Homo sapiens: one gene and its partners. The protein of the gene in region 3 purifies or fractionates together with the protein of the main gene of each other region. This does not show direct contact. Each region holds a gene or a part of one and is shown on either strand. Other genes may lie near its edges.

Evidence for each region.
Region 1: the proteins of LRIG1 (region 3) and RET purify together in Homo sapiens (co-immunoprecipitation; one study listed by IntAct). This does not show direct contact.
Region 2: the proteins of LRIG1 (region 3) and USP8 purify together in Homo sapiens (affinity purification with western blotting, with the first as the bait; one study listed by BioGRID). This does not show direct contact.
Region 4: the proteins of LRIG1 (region 3) and UFSP2 purify together in Homo sapiens (affinity purification with mass spectrometry; one large-scale study listed by BioGRID and IntAct). This does not show direct contact.

Annotation. Positions count from the first base shown.
Region 1 is NC_000010.11:43,083,524-43,087,091, reverse strand, and holds part of RET (proto-oncogene tyrosine-protein kinase receptor Ret isoform a precursor), read right to left. Parts: intron 1-3,568. UniProt on the Homo sapiens protein: Receptor tyrosine-protein kinase involved in numerous cellular mechanisms including cell proliferation, neuronal navigation, cell migration, and cell differentiation in response to glia cell line-derived growth family factors (GDNF, NRTN, ARTN, PSPN and GDF15).
Region 2 is NC_000015.10:50,427,353-50,430,920, forward strand, and holds part of USP8 (ubiquitin carboxyl-terminal hydrolase 8), read left to right. Parts: intron 1-3,568. UniProt on the Homo sapiens protein: Hydrolase that can remove conjugated ubiquitin from proteins and therefore plays an important regulatory role at the level of protein turnover by preventing degradation. Converts both 'Lys-48' an 'Lys-63'-linked ubiquitin chains.
Region 3 is NC_000003.12:66,410,503-66,414,070, reverse strand, and holds part of LRIG1 (leucine-rich repeats and immunoglobulin-like domains protein 1 isoform 1 precursor), read left to right. Parts: intron 1-1,056; coding exon 1,057-1,200; intron 1,201-3,568. UniProt on the Homo sapiens protein: Acts as a feedback negative regulator of signaling by receptor tyrosine kinases, through a mechanism that involves enhancement of receptor ubiquitination and accelerated intracellular degradation.
Region 4 is NC_000004.12:185,401,906-185,405,473, reverse strand, and holds part of UFSP2 (ufm1-specific protease 2), read left to right. Parts: intron 1-1,855; coding exon 1,856-1,980; intron 1,981-3,568. UniProt on the Homo sapiens protein: Thiol-dependent isopeptidase that specifically cleaves UFM1, a ubiquitin-like modifier protein, from conjugated proteins, such as CD274/PD-L1, CYB5R3, DDRGK1, MRE11, RPL26/uL24, TRIP4 and RPL26/uL24.

The DNA of each region.
Region 1 (3,568 bases), on a different chromosome or scaffold from region 3:
ATGCCAGAAAACAGAAGCCCAGAATTCCCGCTGCACACCCATGGTAGAACTGCAACCAGGACATGAGCCTCCTGACACCCCTAAAAGCCATGCAGCCTTCTGCCGTGAGTGGGGAAGGGGTCCAGGCATGGCTGAGGTTTGGGAGAAGGAGGTCCGCAACTGGGCACTGGGGGACCTGGCAGCCCAAGGCTACCTTCTGCACACAGACCCAGCCTTCTGCTCTGAGGGGCCCAGGCCCTAAGCTGCACGATGGCCACCACCCACACTTCCATACCCAGACCAGCTGCAGCGGCCTGGCCAGGATGATGGGCGCTCCTGCCCAACTGCAATTTCCCAGCTGCTGCAGAGTTAATCACCAGCCTCACTGGCAGTTGCTTCCGGCTTCTATGCAAAGGAAACTGCCAATTAGGTTATAATTAATTTCTTTCCTAGGGCAAGGCCTGGCTGAACAGGACTGGCCACCCAAGTGGCCTGTGGATGACCATGTAAGGGTCACTGGCCCCCTTGGCTGCAGGGCTGTAGAGTCTGCCCCAGCTGATTACATTGTTCACTGGCCCTGGCCTGGGGCAACGGGGCCAGGGCATCACCACTGGCTTTGACCCTGGTGCCTCTGGCCTGGGCAACTGTCCCCATGCACTCAGCAAGGCAGTGACTCAGATCATGTCCATGTGCAAATTTAAGTCAATCTGTCAGCTCATGTTCCTCAAGCTGAGATGGTCTTGCCCATTTTCGCCCTACCCCAGCCCCTTCTCATCCCTGTTCAACATTAACCAGTAGGAATCCACGGTGTGCTCCTCATGAGCAGGTCTGCTCCGGGCGCTTCATCTGCATCACCCACTGCATCAAAACAACTGTCAGAGGTAGGGACCATGAGGATTCCCATCTCACACAGGAGGAAAATGAGGCAGCACTAGCTTAGGTACCCTGCTGGAGGCCACACAGAGGCTAGGAATTAAGCTGCAGTCTGGCCTGGGCTTCTCTGTTCAGTGACAGGCATGCAGAGAAGCCGAGGCACCGTGAGCTACCACCCCTTCTGCATTGGGCTGCAGAGTAGAAGCTGGGCTCTCCCTGGAGAGAGGACACAAAAAAGGCTTGAGGGTCTGCTCTTAAGAGCAGTGGAGAGCAGAGGGAGAGAGCCAGGAGCCTCTGAGACAGTAGGTTTCAGCCCAGCACAGACCTGGGGCCAGACAAGCTGACAATCCTGATGCCCCAGGTCACAGCCAGGCAGCCCGATGCGGGGGCACCACCTGCATCTGGATGCTGTTATCCAGGTCCTGGGAGCAAAGACCTCAACATCAAGGGTGAAGAAGAATCCAAACCCAAGGCTGGGGATGCCATGCAGGGAAGGGGATGCCCAGGGAAGTGGTGCCAAGTCTTCATCTGACACTACCCCCATGTGTGACAACTCACGCCTCCCTCAGGGCCTCGATTTCTCCCTGTGTAAAATGAGAGGTTTGCACTGATGTGTAAGCTCCTCTCAGCCGAGGTCCTCATGCCCTTTGAGTCCACGTGATGTCTATGCAGGAGTATCCACAGAATGAGCTCCTGACCAGGGGCCGAGGGGCAGACGGTGGCCGAGATGGAAATCAGGACAGGCTCTGGCCTAGGTGGCCCCTGGGGGGTGAGGGACATGGGGCCAAAACAGGATTAAGACTGCAAGTGTCCTCCCAGGCCACTGACGATGAGGCAAGAAGACAAAGGCCTAGTCCAAAGGAGAGAGTTCAGCAGCAGAAAGGAGAGAGTTCAGCAGCAGGAAGGAGCAGAAACGCAGGGCAGAGCGGCCCAGCCCATGCCCCTGTGCTTCCCCGCTGTTTGCCAGGGCTGGGCACTTGGCTTCCCTGGCTCTGTCCCTAGCTGCGAATGGGGACAGGAACTCCTCCTTGGGAGCACAGAGTGCCTGCCTATGGATGCCAGTGTTCCACCCCCACCAAGCAGATTTGCAGGAGCCCACAGAGGCTGCCTGCCACCCTCGGTTCAGGGCCCCCCAGCTCCATGCTGGCCTCCAGAGCTGCCTAGGTGCATCCACCGCTGTCCTGAGAAAACTGCCCCAGGGCCTGGCAGCATGACATCACACCACGGCAATGATGATAATCAACTTACAGCGGATCCGATTATCAGCCTGGTTATTTTTAGAGTCAGGGTTCAGGATGAGCGAGAGAGGGCGGCCCTGGTTCCCCTGCTGCTGAGTCTCGTCTTGTCAGTGGGGTGGGGGTCTGCTGGCTCCTTGCACCTTCCCCTTCCTCCATCCTTCACAGGGCGGTTCCTGAGAGGCCCCTTCTTATGCACAAGCAGTGACACCATGGTTTCCAGATGTTGGTGCTCAACGTGGCCTCAGAGTCCAGGTCTTCCGAGAATGTCCTCAAGGTCCTCGAGGGCAGTGGTGATTCAATGCCCATGTGAGGAATCAGACGAATCCACACTCTCCTCACAAGGGACCTGGGGCTCAATCACTGACAGTGACGGCCCTGGATAAAGCTGCTTCTCTGCAGCTCTTGATGCAGATGCAACAGCAAAGTCAGCTGTATGGCAAGACAGCCATCTAGTTAGACAACAGGCAGAGGGCTCGAAGAGATGCTTCTCCAAAGAGACATGCAACTGGCCAGCATGCACAGGAAAAGATGCCCAGCACGCCATCACCGGGGAAAGGCAAACCAAAGCCACAACGAGCTAGCACTGTGCACTGGCTGCACGGCCAGAGTGAGACATGAACCAGAGAATAACAGAGAATAATGCGTGGTGGTGAGAATGTGGATAGATTGTAACCCTTGGGAATGTAACACAATTCAACCACTGTGGAAAACAGTTTGGCGGCTCCACAAAATATAAAACAGAATTACCTAGCGATTTCATGTCCAGGTATGTACCCAAAAGAACTGAAAGCACGAACTCAGGTATTTATAACAGGAATGTCCCTGGCAGCATTTTTCATAACTGCCAAAAGGTGGAAAGCACCCACGTGTCCATCCCCAGATGAATGGGTGACGGCACACTATTTACCCCTCACAGGAAGGGGCTGATGTGTGCCACAGCCTAGAGGAACCCTGAAGACCTTATGCTGAGTGAAGCCAGACAACAGTCCATGCAGATGAAATGTTCCAGGACAGGCCAAGCCGCAGAGACAGAACGCAGGCTGGGGGTTGCCCGGGGACAGGAAGCAGCTGTTTAATGGGTATGGGGTTTCCTTTTGGGGTGATGCAAATTTTTTGGAACTAAGGCAATGCCTGTTCAATGCTGTAAATGTGCTAAATGCCACCAAATGGTTCACTTATAAATGGTTAAACTTATGTTACACAAATTTCACAATTAAAAAAGAGTAAACCATAATTATTTGCTACCCTGTTTCCCCCTCTGTCCCCCTCAGCTGCTGGGCCCGCCAGGAGCCCCTGCTATGTGGACCAGGACAAGGGATGGAGAGCTGGTAGGCAGAAGTGTGTGCAGGTACACCCCTGCGTGCCCCCATCCCCGCGTCCTCTGTACTTGAAGCCTCCTGGGGTGAGAACGACCATGTGACAGGATCCCACGGAACACAGGGAAAGTGACGGTGGCCCCCTCCCAGGCCTCAAAGCTC
Region 2 (3,568 bases), on a different chromosome or scaffold from region 3:
AATAGTTCCTATTTCATTTTGCAGATGAAAGTAAACTGAAGAGTGGTGGTGGTATTGGGAGTGATTTACGGAATTTGTTCAAAGTCATATGATTAATAAATGGAAAGTAAGGCCTGCAACAGTTCCATAATATTAAATTTATTAGTACTGAATGATGAAATATTATATTAAACTTATTTGGAATTCTACATTTATAGCCGTACTAATTTTTTTTTTTTTTTTTTTTTTGAGACGGAGTCTTGCTCTGTCTTCTAGGCTGGAGTGCAGTGGTGAGTTCTCGGCTCACTGAAATGTCCGCCTCCTGGGTTTAAGCAATTCTGCTTCAGCCTCCCGAGTAGCTGGGACTATAGGCACCTGCCACCATGCCCGGCTAATTTTTGTATTTTAGTAGAGATGGGGTTTTGCCATGTTGGCCAGGCTGGTCTTGAACTCCTGACCTCAGGTGATCTGCCCGCCTCAGCCTCCCAAAGTGCTGGGATTATAGCCGTGAGCCACCATACCTGGCCCTTTTTTTTTTTAAACTGAGACAAGGTCTTGCTCTGTCACCCAGGCTGGAGTGCAGTGGCATGACCTTGGCTCACTGTAACCTCTGCTTCCTGGGCTCAAGTGATCCTCCTGCCTCAGCCTCCCAAGTAGCTAGGACTGCAGGCACACGCCAGCACACCTGACTAATACCATACTAATTCAAGTAAAACAGTTCTCATGTATAGTGAATAAGGGTTAACTAAGCCTTGTCTCTTTTGACTAACACATTACAATTTAGTTTTTTGTTTGTTTGTTTTTGAGAGGGAGTCTTGCTCTGTCACCTAGGCTGGATGCAGTGGCATGATCTCGGCTCACTGCACCCTCCGTCTGATGGGTTCAAGCAATTCTCCTGCCTCAGCCTCCCAAGTAGCTGGGATCACAGGCATATGCCGCCACGCCCAGCTAATTTTTTGTGTTTTAGTAGAGATGGGGTTTCACTGTGTTGCCCAGGCTGGTCACGAACTCCTGAGCTCAGGCAATCCACCTGCCTCGGCCTCCCAAAGTGCTGGGATTACAGGCGTTAGCTACCACGCCGGGCCTACAATTTAGTTTTTAATAATGCAGCAGTCTTCCTCTTATCTGCAGGGGATATGTTTCAAGACCTCCAATGAATGCCTGAAACCACAGATAGTACTGAACCCTATATATACTATGTTTTCCCTATATATACATTTTTATGATAAAGTTTAACTTATAAATTAGTAACAAGAGATTAACAACAATAACTAATAATAAAATAGAATAATTACAACAATATAGTGTAATAAAAGTTATGCCCTGTGGCCATAACTTGTGCAACTTGAGGTGTGACAGCAAAACTAGCACAAATTTCTTTTTCCTTCATAATTTTGCAGATAAAAGATCTTACCATAGATCTTAGCAACCTCAGCATGAGGTTTTTGGTTTTTTTTCTTATTAGGTTGAGAACTTTCACCTTTTTGCTTAAAGGAAGCAGTTTACAACTTCTTTTTGACATACGTGAATCTCTGCTTTTACACTTTGAAGCCATGATTAAGTAAAATGAGGGTTACTTGAACACAAGCACTGTAATACTGCTATAGTCAGTCTGGTAACTGAGACGGCCACTTAGTGATTAACAGGCAGGTAGCATCTACAGTGTGGATACACTGGACAAAGGGATGATTCATGTCACAGACTGGGCGAAGTGAGGTGGTGCACAATTTAAAACTTATGAATTGTTTATTTCTGGAATTTTTTATTTAATATTCTTGGACTGTGGTTGACTGCAAGTAGCTGAAACCATGGAAAGCGAAACCATGGATAAGGGGGGACTACTACACTAAATTCTGAAACATACCAATAATGGTGTAAACCCACATGTCTTTTTAATAGAGTAAAATGAAATAATTACACATTATAATACCAATTTCAGAACAAGAGTTATGGGCATAAGCATCCTGGAGGTGTTTTTTTTTTTTTTTTTGGAGGTGTTATTTTAATTTCTCAATTACAGAGTTTTAAAAATGAAAATGATTTTTTAAAATTTTGGTAGGTTGAATGATTTAAGATGCTGATTTCAGCTGGAAACAAATTGTTGCCTTCATATTATTTTGTTGCTCCTAGCAGCATGTTTATATTCATTCTTATATTGATGGTTCCCAGTCTTGACTGGTGTTAGAATTCATTTGGGAAGCTTTTTAAAAATACCTATGTGGGCAAGGCGAGGTTGGCTCATGCCTGTAATCCCAGCACTTTGGGAGACCTAGGCAGGAGGATCACTTGAGCCCAAGAGTTTGAGACTATCCTGGACAACATAGTGAGACTCTGTATTTTTTTAAATATATAAATAAGAAAATAAATACCTGTGTGTATGTCTCATCCATAGAGATTCTGATTTAATTGTTTAGGAGTGGGATCTGAGCATCAATATTTTTTTAAAGTTCTCTAGGTAACTGATTCTAACATACAGCTGGGATTGAGAACTATGTTTTTGGTGCATGTTAAGTACGATCTGGCTCCCTACTTAATGATTTTGCATCTGTTAAAAAATTAATGAGGTAGAAGACAAAAGAAATGGATTAAAGTTATAAATGTAGATAGACATCTATTCTGGAAAACAGTTACCCTTTTGTTAGTTTCTGGGAATGGTCCTTAATAAAACAAACAGACATTGGCCTGGTTTGCTAAGTGCCTATATCACAGCATTAAGCCACACTTTACTTTGTTACCGTTATGTACTTAACTTTCATTTTAAGAGGCAGAAACTTTATTAAGAGTTGTATTTTTTTAGTATCCCCTGTATCACAACACTGCACCTTGTGTATAGTAGGTATCTATTGTTTACCTAATTGAAGCCAGTTTAGACAGTCACTCTTTAGAACTAGGGCTAGTTCAGCTCCTTGGGAGGCTGAGGCAAGAGAATCGCTTGAACCGGGGAGGTGGAGGTTTTGGTGAGCCGAGATTGCGCCACTGCTCTCCAGCCTGGACAGCAGAGTGAGACGTCATCTCAAAAAAATAAAGAACTAGGGCTAGTTTATTCTTTTCTTTTCTTTTTTTCTCATGGCATTCTAAGACTCCCCCAATTAGACAGGGTCTCCCTCTATTGCTCAGGCTGGAGTGCAATGGTGTAATCATGGTTCATTGCAAGCTCAACCTCCCAGGCTCAAGGAAGGCCTCAGCCTTCCGAGAAGCTGGGACCACAGGCGCATGCCACCATGCCCTGCTAATTTTTTATTTTTTTATTTTTTTTTTGTAGTGATAAGGTCTCACTGTGTTGCCCAGCAGTTCACCAAATCCTAGATAACATAATTTTGGTGTCAATACTTAATTATCTTCCAAAACAATAGGGATTATCAAAGTCAACATTGATGCCTTATTAGTTGATAAACAGATTTAATATCTGTCTGCTCTCACATATAACTGATTTCTAGTTAATATTTACATCTTAAGATGTTCCTTTGGCATACACTCAACATTTTCCACATCGAATTACCTACTTTGCTGTAAACCAGTGGTTCTTGTTGGGGGTAATTTTGCCTTCCAGGACACATTCGGCAATGACTGTAGACAGTTTTGGTTGTTA
Region 3 (3,568 bases):
GAAGGCTGAGTACCCTTCTAGAAGGCAGAGTTTTAGATTCAAGTAAAGCTCTGTTAACCAGAGCCTGACGAAGGACTTTTTTTCCCTGATTTTTTTTTTTCCTGTGCCCTCTTTTTAGCAGAAGAATGTATTTCAGGAAAATAAGACAGTATTGGAAATTTTGTTTCAACAAAACAAAATAATTGTCGAGGGCCAGGTTGGCGGCACGACGGGGTGTGCCTGGCTCTCATCCTACCTGGGTTTCACCTCCCCTGGGTGGGGAGTCCTAGACTTTGCCATTTTCAGTCTGTGGAGAAGGTCTCAGTGATTCCTGAGAAGGTTTGTGTGGGGCAGCATCATGAGACACTGCAGAAATATTTGGGGAAAACCAAGGGCTTTCTGGCTGCTCTGCCTCCCCTTCCCGCAGGGGTGCTAATGGATCTGGCCCACCCAGATTCCTGACATCTTTTGGTGAACTGAGGCTTTGTCATACTGGGGCTAGAAGCCAAGTGTATATGACTTGTGGGGTGTCTCTACCCCATCTCCCCCTGCCCCCATGTGCAGTAACTTCTCTCCATAGTGGAGATGCTGTGAAATGCCCCCAGTGGAAAGTGTTATTGCCATTTGATACATAGTGGTTTGGTTTTTCCTGGGTTGAGGCATGTGGTGTGGATTTCTGTTGCTGAGCTCAGAGATACCTCACATAAGACATTCACCCCTTGAGTCATACCCACGTCCTCACTGCAGAGTCACAAATGGCACTGGTGCTACTGGGGGAGGAGACGTGAGCACACACGCGTTCTCTTCTGTGCAGCTGTGGGCCAGCCTCGGAGCTGGCTGTGGAGAGCTGGCCTCACTCACCCCTCTTGCCTGCACTAGGTGTGGTCAGGTGGCAGCATCAGTGCCTGCATGGCAGCCGAGACACATGGTGGGCTCCCCTACACATCCTGGCTTCCCAGGGATCCCTGCACTGGGATTTCTCCTCTGGCTTGGAAACTTAGCCAGGACTGCTTCAGAATGGTTGTGGGTGGGATATGCACATAAGACACTCTGACCCTGCTGGCTTCATCTCTTTAGGGACCTCAATCGGAACAGGATTCGGCTGATAGAGGGCCTCACCTTCCAGGGGCTCAACAGCTTGGAGGTGCTGAAGCTTCAGCGAAACAACATCAGCAAACTGACAGATGGGGCCTTCTGGGGACTGTCCAAGATGCATGTGCTGTAAGTGCGGACCAGGTTACTGGCATTGCTAAGGATTGCTGTGCGGTGTGGTGTGATGTGGCGTGTGTGTGTGTGCGCATGCATGTGCGCACCAACACCAACGTTGCTGTGTGTTGGGTGTGTGCGCCCACACCAGCATTGCTGTGTGGTGTGGGGTGTGTGTGCGTGCGCGTGTGCACGTGCGCGCCCACACCAGCATTCAGCTGTGCACTGGGCATGGAGTGGGGCACCAGTGCCCAGCCCCTCTCTCCTGAAGGATTCTTCAAGACTTCAGCCGGACCCAGCCCCCTTCCCTTTGCAGCTTCACCTGGGCCCAACTCATTGTCTTGGGGACCGGGCCAAACCTGAGGGTATTTTCCTAGCAGATTGGGACATCCACTGAAATCCACTTGGGGGAAGTTTCAGCGGATTGAGTCAGATAAGTTGGTTGATGGAGATGGAGTTTGGGGGCCATTCTGCCAGGACTGCTTTCCACAGCTTGCATCCACTGCCCCCGCCCCTGCTTCTTCGGTGAACGTGGGGCTGCGGAACAGACCCCTCCTCACATCCTCTCCACTCCTGACCACAGGAAGTTCCTTCTCTCCCCTTCTGGGTTTGACAGTCTTTCCTGAGGTGCAGGTGGGCCAAAAATGTAGAGCTCATCTTAGGAGGTTTATTTCTGTCTTGTGAGCTAATCAAGACACTGGGTGCAGATGTTTAAGTTTTATCAAGGGAGCAGTCTCTTCAGCCAGATGTGTACAGCAGCAGAAGGGGCTTGCCTGCACGGTAACGTGAAACAGCAGGGCAGCATACAGAAAAGGCTTTTTAAACGTTGAAAGCCTTTTTAAACGTTAATATTTATTTTTAATCAAAAGTAATTTGACTGTATAGTTAAATAAAATCAGATAGTAAAGAAAAGCCATCACTGCCCACCCCAGCCTCCCCCGCCACCACCCCCTCATTCTCTCTTCACCCCAGTTCTTCTCCCAAGAGGCAAGCACTTCTAAGCCTTTCTCTTTTTCGTTTTTCTGTTTTTAGCTTTGCTGGTTGTTCCTTCCAAGTTGATAGACTGACACCACTGTCTTTACTTATCCACTTGCGATTTCCTCCTTGAGAGTCAATGATTTAACTTGCTCATGTCCGCCCCTTCTTCTTCCAGTCTGGGCAAATTATATCATGACTCGAATGTCCTTTACTGGTTTTCTTGGCAGTGGAAACGAGCTAGGCCCAGGTCCATCCACATGTTGTGCTGTGTCACTCTGATAACCGTCTCTGCATGACCAGCCCTCCCTACTCTGTGAACAGTGAGGATGTTTCCTGCCGCTGGGCTTCTTGCTCTACCCATTCTCCACCCTTTGTTTTACATATTCAAAAACGTTTCACTTGACCTCCTTAGGCATGTCATTTTGGACTTGGAAGTCCAAGGTGGTCATGTGCTGGGTGGACTGAAGTTAAAAGAGAATTCTCAGAGGAAAATGGAGTTAGCACCTACCATTTGGTTTTTATGTTGAACAGATTTGTATAAATTGAGACTGATGAGCTGCCTTAGAGGTTATTTATACATTAAGTGCTTACCTTTTGAGCAGTAGCAGAAAGAAAGATGGAAAAAAGCAAAACTCAGTTACCCAAAGCCCTTGTAATACTGAACACGGAGCAAAATTCGGGTTACGGACTTTTGTTGAAGAGGCGGTTGCCTGGGCTGGCGCTGTCCTTCCTGGCACATGCTGTGTTGGGAAGCGGGGTGCTAGCACACTTACACGGTGGGCCTGAGAGCTCAGGCCTAGAGCTGCACTGAATCCTGATGTACCCTTGTTTCCTTCTTATAGTGACCCCATGGAGTCAGTGCTCTTGGATATCTCCATGTTAGTAGATGTGCAGGTTTATTCAGCCAGCAAGCTGCAAAATTAGGATTTAAATCCAGGTAGTCTGACGCCAGAGCTAAAGCGGGTCTCCTAGCACAGTGGCACAGAGTCCAGCCTTTGGTAGGCAGACCCAGGGTTGAATTAATTCTAGCCCCTTCCCTACTGGCTAAGCTGTGTAAAGTCTTAGACAGGTTACCTGGCTTCTCTCAGCAGCACATTCCTCATGTGTGAGATGCGGGTGATAATAAGAGCCGCCTCCTATTCGCTCTCCTTTCTATTCCTTTAATGGGCTTTGCCCTTGCCTGGAACTCCTGTGCCCGTTTGTTGGCCTGGGTCACTTTTTGTTTTGTTTTTGGTAGAGATGGGGTTTCGCTATATTGCCCTTGCTGGTCTCGAACTCCCGAGCTCAAGCGATCCTCCTTCTTCGGCCTCCCCAAGTACTGGATGGGCATAAGCCGCCACACCCAGCCCTGGTTCACTTTTACTCAGCCAAAAAAGTCACTTCTAGGAAGCTCCCTCTTGCCCTA
Region 4 (3,568 bases), on a different chromosome or scaffold from region 3:
TGTCATAACTGGGCTGGCTTTGTGAGATTTTGCAATTACTTACCTCTGTGGATTTTATTTGTAAAATAAGAAGATTGGATTAGCTGATCTAAAGATGCTTAATTCTTTGAAGAACAAGACCTGTCCTGTGATGACAGAAGGCAAGGTGAGACTAGTGTGTAAGAAATGGAGGTAGAAGCTGGGCATAGTGGCTCACACCTGTAATCCTAGCACTTCGGGAGGCTGAGGCAGGAGGATAGCTTGCATCCAGGAATTCAAGACCAGCATGGGCCAGACCGCGTCTCTACCAAAAAAAAAAAAACACACAAATTAGCTGGCATGGTAGTGTGAGCCTATAGTGCCAGCTATTCAGGAGACTGAGGTGGGAGGATTGCTTGAGCCCAGGAGGCTGCAGTGAGCCAAGAGATCCACTGCTCTCCAGCCTGGGTTACAAAAGTGAGACACTGTCTCAAAAGAAAAAAAAAAAAAAAAGAAATGGAGGTAGGCTGATGTCAGCAAAATATCAGAAAGAACTTAATGAGTAGGCCGGGCCCAGTAGCTCACGCCTGACTCCTGATTGTATGAGCTTATGTTTTAAAATACATTTTCTAGCCAGGCACAGTGGCTCATGCCTGTAATCCAGCACTTTGGGAGGCTGAGGCGGGCGGATCACTTGAGGCCAAGAGTTCGAGACCAGCCTGGCCAACATGGCAAAACACTGTCTCTACTAAAAATACAAAATTTAGCTGGGTGTGGTGGCACACACCTGTAATCCCAACTACTTGGGATGCTGAAACAGGAGAATCGCTTGAGCTGTGAGGTGGAGGTTGCAGTGAGCCGGGATTGCCCACTGTACTCCAGCCTGGGTAGCAGAGCAAGACTCTGTCTCAAAAAAAAAGACTGGGCACAGTGGCTCACGCCTGTAATCCCAGCACTTTGGGAGGCCAAGGTGGGTCGATCACGAGGTCAGGAGATCGAGACCATCCTGGCTAACAGTGAAACCCCGTCTCTACTAAAAAAAAATACAAAAAATTCGCTGGGTGTGCTGGTGTGCGCCTGTAGTCTCAGCTACTCAGGAGGCTGAGGCAGGAGAATTGCTTGAACCTGGAAGGCAGAGGTTGCAGTGAGCCGAGGTCACGCTATCGCACTCCAGCCTGGGTGACGTGAGACTCTAGCTCAAAAAAAAAAAAAAAAAAAAAAACTTAATGAATGGAGTGCTATATCACTGGAGGTACTCAGAGGCAGCAGGACCATCTGCTGAGAGAGGCACTACAGCAGATTGTTACTCTGTTGGGAGGAGTTTATGGCCCTTTCTAAATCCATTTTAGGTAATTATATGGATGTGAATGTAGAATATAAATTGTATGTGATTATAGATATGATTGTATCTTTTGTGTTAAAGATGTAATTTTATCCTTTCAGAGTATATCTGACATTGTGTCTTTTATAGTGTAGGGTAGTCCATTTTAATGCTATTTTAGATCAGTTAATAAGCAAAGTAATGTTGTTTTTTTTTGTTTTTTTTTTTGAGAGTCTTGCTGTGTCGCCCAGGCTGGAGTGCGGTGGCATGATCTCGGCTCAGTGCAAGCTCCGTCTCCCAGGTTCATGCCATTCTCCTGCCTCAGCAGGAGCTGGGACTACAGGCGCCTGCCACCAAGCCCAGCTATTTTTTTTGTATTTTTTTAGTAGAGACAGGGTTTCACTGCATTAGCCAGGATGGTCTCCATCTCCTGACCTCGTGATCCACCCACCTCCCAAAGTGCTGGGATTACAGGTGTGAGCCACCACGCCCGGCCGTAATCTGTCTATTTAAATTGAATAGGCATTTGACATTTGTTTATGCCTTCATTCGTATTTCCTATTTTTTCTTCTATAGGGGGAGGAGTTTTGGCCCACACAATACTAGGAGTTGCATGGAATGAGATTACAGGGCAGATAAAGTTTCTGATTCTAGATCCACATTATACCGGTGCTGAAGACCTGCAAGTTATTTTGGAAAAGGTAAGTATCCATTTAACACAAATTGAGACAAAAGGCAAAGAAGCTAGAAATGAAGGATCACAAACTGGCTGGTAACAGAAAGACAATAAGCTGAGGGCAGAGATCTCCCTGTGTGGAGGCCTTCTGAGGCTGTTGTAAGTAGCCGTCTCTGTATAGGGAATGTGCAAGAACAAAGCACATTGCAAAAGACAAAATTTAGGTTTATAGAAACTTTCTCAGCTATTAAAATTAATAATAGGACACACACTCATAAATATATTCCTTTGGAGATTTTAGAGCTTTCATAAACAAATGTATCAAAGTTTATCAATGTCTTAAAATAGATGAGCAGAATATATAAACTTTTAAAATTTTAGAATTAACCAAAAGATAGCTAAGCAGTATGCTAGACATTATGGAGGCTTGACTAATTTTAATTCATTTACATATAACCTAATCTCATTCTATAAAGGGTTTGAAGTTGATACATATTTAAGAGTATTCTTACTTACAATAGCAGATAAAGGAGGTAAAAATTTGTTAATTCATAGGCAACTAATTCTCACATATGAAAACTCAGTACCAAGTCTTTAGGAGAAAGTATTGTAAAACATAATTAACTTGAATTTTAAGTAACATTTATATTCGCTGCCAAATACATTGAAATTGCAGAGAATACATAACCACCTTTTAAACTATAAACTAAAGATAAAATGTTTTAATATGTTAAAGAGTTTTAAGCCAGGCGTGGTGGCTCACACCTGTAATCCCAGCACTTTGGGAGGCTGAGGTGGGCAGATCACCTGAGATCAGGAATTCGAGACCAGCCTGGCCAACATGGTGAAACCCCATCTCTACTAAAAATGCAAAAATAAGCCAGGTGTGGTGGTGGGCGCCTATAATCTTGGCTATTTGGGAGGCTGAGGCAGGGGAATCACTTGAACCCGGGAGGCAGAGGTTGCAGTGAGCTGAGATGGCGCCATTGCACCCCAGCCTGGGCAACAGGAGTGAAATTCCAGCTCAAAAAAAAGTTTTTAATGTGTGTAGTCCAACTCTGTTATATCCTCAGTTTACTGAAGTCTTTTGTTTATGATAAGGGTATAAACACTAATAGGATAGAAATGTGTTGTTACAGTTTTAAGTGTTTTTTTTTCCTTTTCTCTTTCACAGCATTTGGAATTTGAAGTCTATAAAAGGTTTTTTGACTGGTGCATGTATCTTACTGAATATAGTAGCAATATTCTTGTTCTGTAGCAAGGTGTTCATTCCATTCAGTATTTATTAAAGTACCTAACAAGTGCCAGGCACTGTCCTAAGCACTAGTATTACACGAGGTTTTTCGGGAGCTAAAACCTTTAGGGTAGGACAGAGAAGGAGAGTGCAAAAAGGACTCTCGAGAAAAAAAAAATGGTATCTCAGGTGCTTCTACGAGGCTGGTGCTGTGGTGGCCCCTGCCTTGTAGAAACAGTGAAAGCCGCACTGCAGGTAGATCAGTGCGTCCAGAGCTAGGCGAAGAGGTGAGGCTGGAAGGACACACCAAGCTCAGTCAGAAAGGGTGGTCTTTGTGAACCAGGCATTTCGATTTTTTCTTAAAGGCAGGGAGAAGCCT